Homo sapiens: one gene and its partner. The protein of the gene in region 2 interacts with the protein of the main gene of each other region in a pairwise test. Each region holds a gene or a part of one and is shown on either strand. Other genes may lie near its edges.

The links. The genes of interacting proteins can lie anywhere in the genome.
Region 1: the proteins of KLHL35 (region 2) and FAM25G interact in a two-hybrid assay, tested with the Homo sapiens proteins (one large-scale study listed by BioGRID).

The regions. Positions count from the first base shown.
Region 1 is NC_000010.11:47,488,901-47,493,078, reverse strand, and holds the start of FAM25G (protein FAM25G), read left to right. Parts: upstream 1-1,378; 5' UTR 1,379-1,404; coding exon 1,405-1,477; intron 1,478-3,430; coding exon 3,431-3,493; intron 3,494-4,178.
Region 2 is NC_000011.10:75,423,204-75,426,703, forward strand, and holds part of KLHL35 (kelch-like protein 35), read right to left. Parts: intron 3,436-3,500; coding exon 3,317-3,435; intron 2,379-3,316; coding exon 2,190-2,378; intron 678-2,189; coding exon 489-677; intron 1-488.

The DNA.
Region 1 (4,178 bases), on a different chromosome or scaffold from region 2:
GTCCTGCTGCCCACGATACCCACTGTCCACCCTAGGGGGACTGGCCGTAGCCCTGGAGCCCGCAAACACCATGCAGGAATGCAAGAGGGTCTCAGCTCCCGAGTCCCAGGCTGGGAGGGCCCACAGTCCAGTAAACTAATCAGGCCCCGACACATCCAGGAGAGCAGCTCCAGGAGCCTGCATTGGGGAGAGAGCCTCAGACCCCTGCCACAGGCCTGCACCCCAGAAGTAGGAGCATGGGAAGACCTCTCCTTGGCTCCTGGCCAGCAGAAGTCACATTCCCCAGCCCTCTGGCTCCAAGGCAGCCTCACGTCCCAGTCACTCCTTGGCACACCCTACCAGTTGGTCAGAGCTCACTGCCAAAGGGCACCTCAATGATGAGTGGAGGGAACAGGTGTTTACCAGGAGCTTGCATGCTTTGCCTCAGGGATGATTAGGGACACAGCCAAGAAGGCACGCTATGCCCATTTTACAGATGAGGAAACGGAGGCTCAGGTTGGGCTGGTGACTAAGGGAAGCAGCATGTGGCAGGTGGCTTGAGGCATGTCTGTCCATCATGAGTAACTAGGGAGCAGCCCTGCCACTCCTCATGCGATGCACCAGGAGCCAGGGAAGCTGCTTCCTAGGGGATTCTAGCTAAGGCCAGAAGCATCTCCCTGAGTGGTGGTGGAGGCCTCTGTCTACTCCTCCAGGACTGCCAGGGGATAGGAGGGCACTGCTGACCTCACAGAGCCTCTTGGGTGAGTGAGCATCAGCTGAGCGACACCAGGTGACTACGCTTCTGCCCAGTGCTGTGCCCCCCTCTGACTCGGGCAAGGCACCACCCTGAACGCCCCACCCTGTCCCATGGAGGCCGCAAACTGCTCTGCAGAGCCAGGGTCTCCAGGAATGGGGAGGGCAGTCACCCTCATTCCACTTGTGTTCATGACTCAAAGGACTGCCCAGGTCTCCAGGCCCATAGAACCCCCAAACCTCTTACTAGGCCACACTGGGGACCTTGAGCAGCAGGCTTGGAATCCTAGGCCTTGTCTCCAGGTACATATCAGTACCCAGGCTTGGGAAGCTTTGGTCTCAGGGGGGCTGGCACTCAGGCCCTCTGCCTCAAGGAAGAAGCATGTCCAGATCTCTACTGTCCAGCCCTGCTCCCTGCCCCTATCCTTCACGGGGTCCCTAGGACAGGGTTACAGAAGCCTCATGCTGTCAGGGGATGCTGCCACCCTAGTTCCAGGGTGGCTCCGCCCAGCCCCTTCCTGCTGCCGCCCTCACTGACTCACCTGTCCAGCCTCCTACTGGGCTGGGGTGAGGGCTTATTGCCCCAGAGCCTAGATAGGCACCAGAGGCAGCTATAAAAGCATGTTGGGCCAGTCCTCAGCATCCTAGTTCGCCACTGTCTGCTGCCACACGATGCTGGGAGGCCTGGGGAAGCTGGCTGCCGAGGGCCTGGCCCACCGCACCGAGAAGGCCACCGAGGGAGCCAGTGAGGACCCAGGGCTCCTTTCTACCTGGGCTGGGGGGATCTGGGGCAGACTGGGTCTGTGGGAGGCGGATCTACGTAGGCAGGCGAGGACCTGCGGGGAGGCCTTGGCCCCTCAGGAACCCTGGTCTCCTGCTCTACCAAGTCAGCACGGAGTTGAGGGGTGCAGACCTGGGGAGGTCTCCTGGGGGCAGGGCATGAGTCCTGGTGCTGGGTGAACACTGGCAGCTTGGACCCTTCCCTCTGGAAATCTGGGGAGCCTTTCTTGTCAAAACAGCCTATTCTGAATAACCTATGCAGGAAAAGGAAGATGGATTTTTATTTTTACCATAACTTTAAAGCTTCAAAGATTTCTTAACAAGTCACCAAGTCTGTTCAAAGTCAAAAAGGGCATTTTCAATTTCATCCAAGTCCCCTAAAGCATGTTTATTTTTATTTGTATTTGTATTTGAAATGGAGTCTTGCTCTGGCACCCAGGCTGGAGTGTAGTGGTGCGATCTCGGCTCACTGTAACCTTTGCCTCCTGGGTTCAAAGTGATTCTCATGCCTCAGCCTCCTGAGTAGCTGGGATTACAGGCACCCACCACCACGCCCGACTAATTTTTGTATTTTTAGCAGAGACGGGGTTTCGCCATTTTGGCCAGGCTGGTCTCAAACTCCTGACCTCAAGTGATCCATTCCTCTTGGCCTCCCAAAGTGCTGGGATTACAGGCGTGAACCACTGCACCTGGTCCCGAAGTGTATGTTGTATTCAGAGGTCAGCAGGTATGTGTGGGGAGGCCCAGCCAGGCCCCACTCATGGGTCATCGTGTGAAAAAGTCTTGCCTGAGTTTGTGTCCTCTTTCTAAATGGCAGCAGATGCGTATTTTGTTTTTGACTCTGCAGCTGGTGTGGACCACCTGCTTTAACCTTTCACTAGCCTCTGAGTTTTTTATGATTCCTGTTGGGAGAAAAGCTCAGCGTTGGGAGAAAAGCTGAGGCAGGGCTTGCTAGACTTGCTGGCTCCTTGCTTCTAGCACTGCCATTCTCTCAAGTAGCCATATGTTTCTCATTCACTTGATACACTGTTTCCTTTCAACCTCCACATCCTCACCACCTGTTTCTTTGTTAGATCACCAATAAATAGCGTGGGCTCCCAGAACTCGGGGCCTTCGCAGCCTCCACACTCGCGATAGCGCCCTGCTCCCATTTTCTCTCTCGAACTGTCTCTTTGTCATTCCTTTGACTCCGCTGGACTTGCCGCCCCCGTGACCTGGTGTTGGGTCTCATCATCCCAACAGATTCCCATTCTAAAGATGAGGGAACCAAGAGGTGGAAGGTAGAGTTAGAATAAGAACCATTTCTTCTGACTCTGAAATCCTTCAGTTCTAGCACGCTACCACCCACACTTTAAAAAACTCTGAAGTAGGCAGAGAATTCCGTTTTGTTGGAGGAATTGCTTTGAGAGACCTGGTCTTAGTGGATGAGGCTTTGGAAACCAACCTGAGGCAGGCGCTAGCACATCCTGAGAGGGGTGTGACCTGGCACACAGGCCCAGCCTGGGCTTCATGTCTCAGCTGGCAAGACTGCCTGCTCATTGCCATTCCAGGCCGGGCAGGGCCAAGGGGCTTCAGGGACCCATGCCCTCATGGGGCTCATTGAGCTCGTCTCCCAGCAGCCAAGGCCCTGGCGTCTCCAAATGAAGCCAGCTGTGGGGGAAGGTCCTTCTCATGAGTCAGTCTGTCCTGGCTGGGGGTGGCACCCCAGAGCCCCATCTAGGATGCCCAGGGATGTATAGGTCTGTTGTGAGGATAAGCCAGCCCTGAGCCCTCACCCTGGACTGGGAGGGCAGTGGGCCTGCTCTGAGCCCTCACCCTGGACTGGGAGGGCAGCGGCTCTGCTCTGAACCCTCACCCTGGACTCGGGGGCAGCCGGCCTGCTCTGAGCCCTCACCCTGGACTTGTCTCCTCTGTTCAGTTCATGCCGTGGAGGAAGTGGTGAAGGAGGTGGTGGGACATGCCAAGGAGACTGGAGAGAAAGGTACAGCCGGCTGAGGTCGGGCAGGGAAGGAGGGAGGGAGGAAGGGAAGCTAGGTGCTGGGCCAACCTGTTCTTTGACTAACCAGGTCAAACTCTGCCCCTAATGTTGCAGCCTTTCAGAGCCTCTTGGCTGGGGCAGTTATCTATGCTCATCAGAGGCCACAGACTGTACTGCGTTAGGACACTGTCTAGATGGTTCTCTCTGTGGAATAAGAAGACAAAGTCACACAAGACTATGTGACAGCACACTGGGACAAAACATTTAACATGGCAGGGTGCGGTGGCTCATGCCTGTAATCCCAGCACTTTGGGAGGCTGAGGAGGGCGGATCATGAGGTCAGGAGATCGAGACCATCCTGGCTAACACGGTGAAACCCCGTCTCTACTAAAAATACATAAAAATTAGCCGGGCATGGTGGTGGGTGCCTATAGTCCCAGCTACTTGGGAGGCTGAGGCAGGAGAATGGTGTGTACCTGGGAGGCAGAGCTTGCAGTGAGCCTAGATCATGCCACTGCACTCCAGCCTGGGCTACAGAGCAAGACTCGGTCTCAAAAAAAAAGAAAAAAATAATTGCTGGGGGCGGTGGCTCACGCCTGTAATCCCAGCACTTTGGGAGGCTGAGGTGGGCGGATCATGAGGTCAGGAGATCCAGACCACGGTGAAACCGCATCTCTACTAAAAATAC
Region 2 (3,500 bases):
TCCAGTCCAACCATATCTGTGTAGTCTCTGGAGTTTCAGGGGATGGAGAAGAAGGTAGGGGAGGCAGGGAATTGCAGGGGCCAGAGCTTCCAGGACTTGGGCCTCCCTGCTCTGATATCACTAGAGCAGACCTTAGCAACTCCCTTCCCCACATCTTACCTCATGATTGGTTACTAGCAGTGGCCTTCGGGGCAGGAGAGACCACAGGGTCATTTGGACCAAATCCCCACTCAAAGCTATAGCACTTGGGACTGCAGGGTTCTAGGCTCTGCCTTAACAGGGCCTAGTTGTTGGCCTGGGCCAGGTGCTGAACCTCTCTAAGGCCAGTCTCCTCATCTGTGAAATGCATGGTTCACTATCACTGTGAGGATGAGCTAGAGAGTGATGTATAATAAAACCACCTAGGATGGAGTCACAAGATTCACAAGCTCCAAGATCCAGAGCCTTAGAAGCGGGTTCCGCTCTCCTGCCTTGAAGCCTCCACTTACCACAGGGCTGGGGAGGACAGCTGCCTCCCCCCACACATCTGTGCCTGGATCATAGGTGAAGATTTTGCTCATGAGACCCCCCATGACATAGATGGTGTCCTCAAGGGAGACAGCCTCGAGACACCGCTGTGAGAAGGGTGCTGGTGACCGCAGGCTCCACCGGTCCTCCTTGGGGTCAAAGCACTGCACCTGAGGGGCAAGAGCAGCAGTGGTGAAGACTCACCGCCCCCCCCAACAAATGCCCCACCGCCCACATGCTGCCACCTCTCCCCCCGGGGGCACTCATTCAAAACGACATTTGCCAGTGTCCACCAGGCCTGAGCCAGCATCTGGGAGGGAGGGGGAGGTCCACCGTCCCTGCCCTCAAGGGCTCTTCATCTAGTTCTATGTTCTGTCCTCTGCCTCTGGACTCCCTTTGTCAAAAGCCTCCTCATCTTTCGAGGTCCTGCTCAAATGCCACCCCATCCTTAAAGGTCTCCCTGGTGTTCCCCCCTCCCCTCACCCCTCAACACACACACACAGGAACAGTCTCTCCTTTGATGGAGAACACAGTCGCCTCATGTTAGATTAATCATAGAGCACATCATACTGAGCTGGGAGAGGTACTGTCTGCTTTAGGGTTATAGAGGGTCCTCAGAGCAGACCCCCGACGGGGATGTGTTCCTAGCTGCATACACTGTCAACTCCCTTCTCTTTTCCTGGTGCTCTCAGGTCATTAGATTCTAGCTGAGGTGTCTTGCAGCCCTATTTCTACAGCTGTCCACATGCCCATGGGTGTTTCTGATGCCCTTAACAGTTTCTGTATTTAGCTGCCTGCTCACCTCACTCTCTGTTTCCTCAACTGTTTCCTTGGAGACCCCCTCCCCCCACAGCAGCCTATAACAAATCAGTGCTGCATGGATGGTGTTAAATGGGGCCTCCCACCATGAGTGCCTATCACTCAGCTCCAGGAGGGTTTGCTGGAAGAATGTGGTCAGGGAATAAGGAAGCGTGGGCACCCTAATTTGGGAAAGAGTCAAGTCCTAGGACCACAGGCTTATGAGGCCATCAGGGGAGGGAAGGAACTGCTATGATAAATATTTTTATTTGCAAAAAGCCTAAATGTCCCAACAATAAAAGATGAGTAGACTCTAGTTCATCCACCATGTGGAATAGTACAGACATTGAAATGATGGCTGTAAAGTTGATAATCACGTGGAAAATGCTCATACCTAAATTAGAATAAAATGCAGAATGCAAAATTCTAACAAAACAAAACTGTAAGAAAAACAAAAATCAATTCAGTGGAAGCCTGTAAGGCAACACACCAAAATATGAATAGCAGCTCTGCCTAGACGGTGGGATTATGGGTTTTTTTTTTTTCTATTTTTCTGTGTTTTCTAAATTTTCAGTAGTAAGTGTATTGTTTTTGGAATGGAACAAAAGCATTTTAACTATCTTGCCCTCAATTTTTAAAATGTATGAAACTTACATGGCACCAGCCCAAACATTTGAGTCCCAGTGTGCTGCTGACCCACTGTGTGACCTTGGGGTCATTTTTCTGCTCATTTCCTTCCCTGAAACATGGAGGTGACTGGTCTGGGCTGTTGATGGGATTAAGTGAATAAATGGACAAGGGCATGGAAACGCCCAATTCTGCGCCTGGCACACAGTGGGCACCCCAGCCTTCAACGCCCTCTCGCGCCTGAGGCCCACGCCCACCTTGTCCGTGTTGACGCCGCCCTGCCTGGCGCCCCCAATCACGAAGAGCTTGCCCGCGCAGGACGCCACCGCCGCCGAGCTCACGGCCTCCGGGAGGGGCGCGGCGGCCGCCCAGGTGTTGGAGAAGGGGTCGTAGCGCTCCACGCTGTGCAGGCGCCTCAGGCCGTCGAAGCCACCCACCGCGAACAGCTGCAAGTGAGGACATGGGCCGGGGAGCCGGGTGCCAGGGCCTTAGGGCCCTCGGCCTCATCGCTTCAGTCCTTACAGTCTTTGAGCTGGAAACTATCCCTGTCCCCAACCCAGTTTCAGGACCAAACTGACCCCCGAGCCCAGTGCTGCCACCACCTGGGCAGCCTCCACCCAGTTGCTGTACCTCCCTGAGCCGGTTTCCTCTCATTTAGCGGGGATGAGACCTTAACCTGCATGGTTACAGCTGTAAAATACCTGGCACCAAGCTGATGCTTAATAATAATAGCTAGTATTGAGACTTTACCACCCCACTTAATTGATTCTAAGAAGCATCTTTGTTTCTGAATTCGGGATGTAGCTTACAAAGATAATTGACTTTTTTTTTTTTTTTTGAGACAAAGTCTCGCTCTGTTGCCCAGGCTGGAGTGTAGTGGTGCAATCTGGGCTCACTGCAAGCTCCGCCTCCCAGGTTCATGCCATTCTCCTGCCTCAGCCTCCTGAGTAGCTGGGACTACAGGCACCAGCCACCACGCCGAGCTAATTTTTTGTATTTTTAGTAGAGACGGGGTTTCACCGTGTTAGCCAGGATGGTCTGGATCTCCTGACCTCGTGATCCGCCCGCCTTGGCCTCCCAAAGTGCTGGGATTACAGCCACTGCGCCCGGCCGACAGATTCTTTTATTCTTGAGTGGCACAGTCAAGATTCAAACCTAGACTCTATGGCCCCAGAGCCCATACCCTTGACCATCAGGCTGTTACTATTACAGTAATTGCTATTATTATTAGCATCAGCCATTATTATGTGACCTTGGACAAGTCTCCTTTTTTGGGGGGCTTCAGACCCCTTCTTACAAAGAGAGGGTTTTAGAGAACCTCCCTCCAGCACATCCACAGATCTGTACCTTGTGTCCCAGGGCAGCCGCTGCAGCTCGTGCCTACCTGCCCCTGCACAACTGCCATCTTGTGCCTCCACCTGCCCTTGTGCAGAGAGGCTACCTTGATCCAGGTGTGCAGATGGGAGCTAAACATCCACACATCATGACTGTTGATGTGGCCTCCTAGGGAGAGAGAAGCAGCTGTTGCCCATCGGCTCTCTTGCTATCCCAAGCACCCCCAAAGAGCT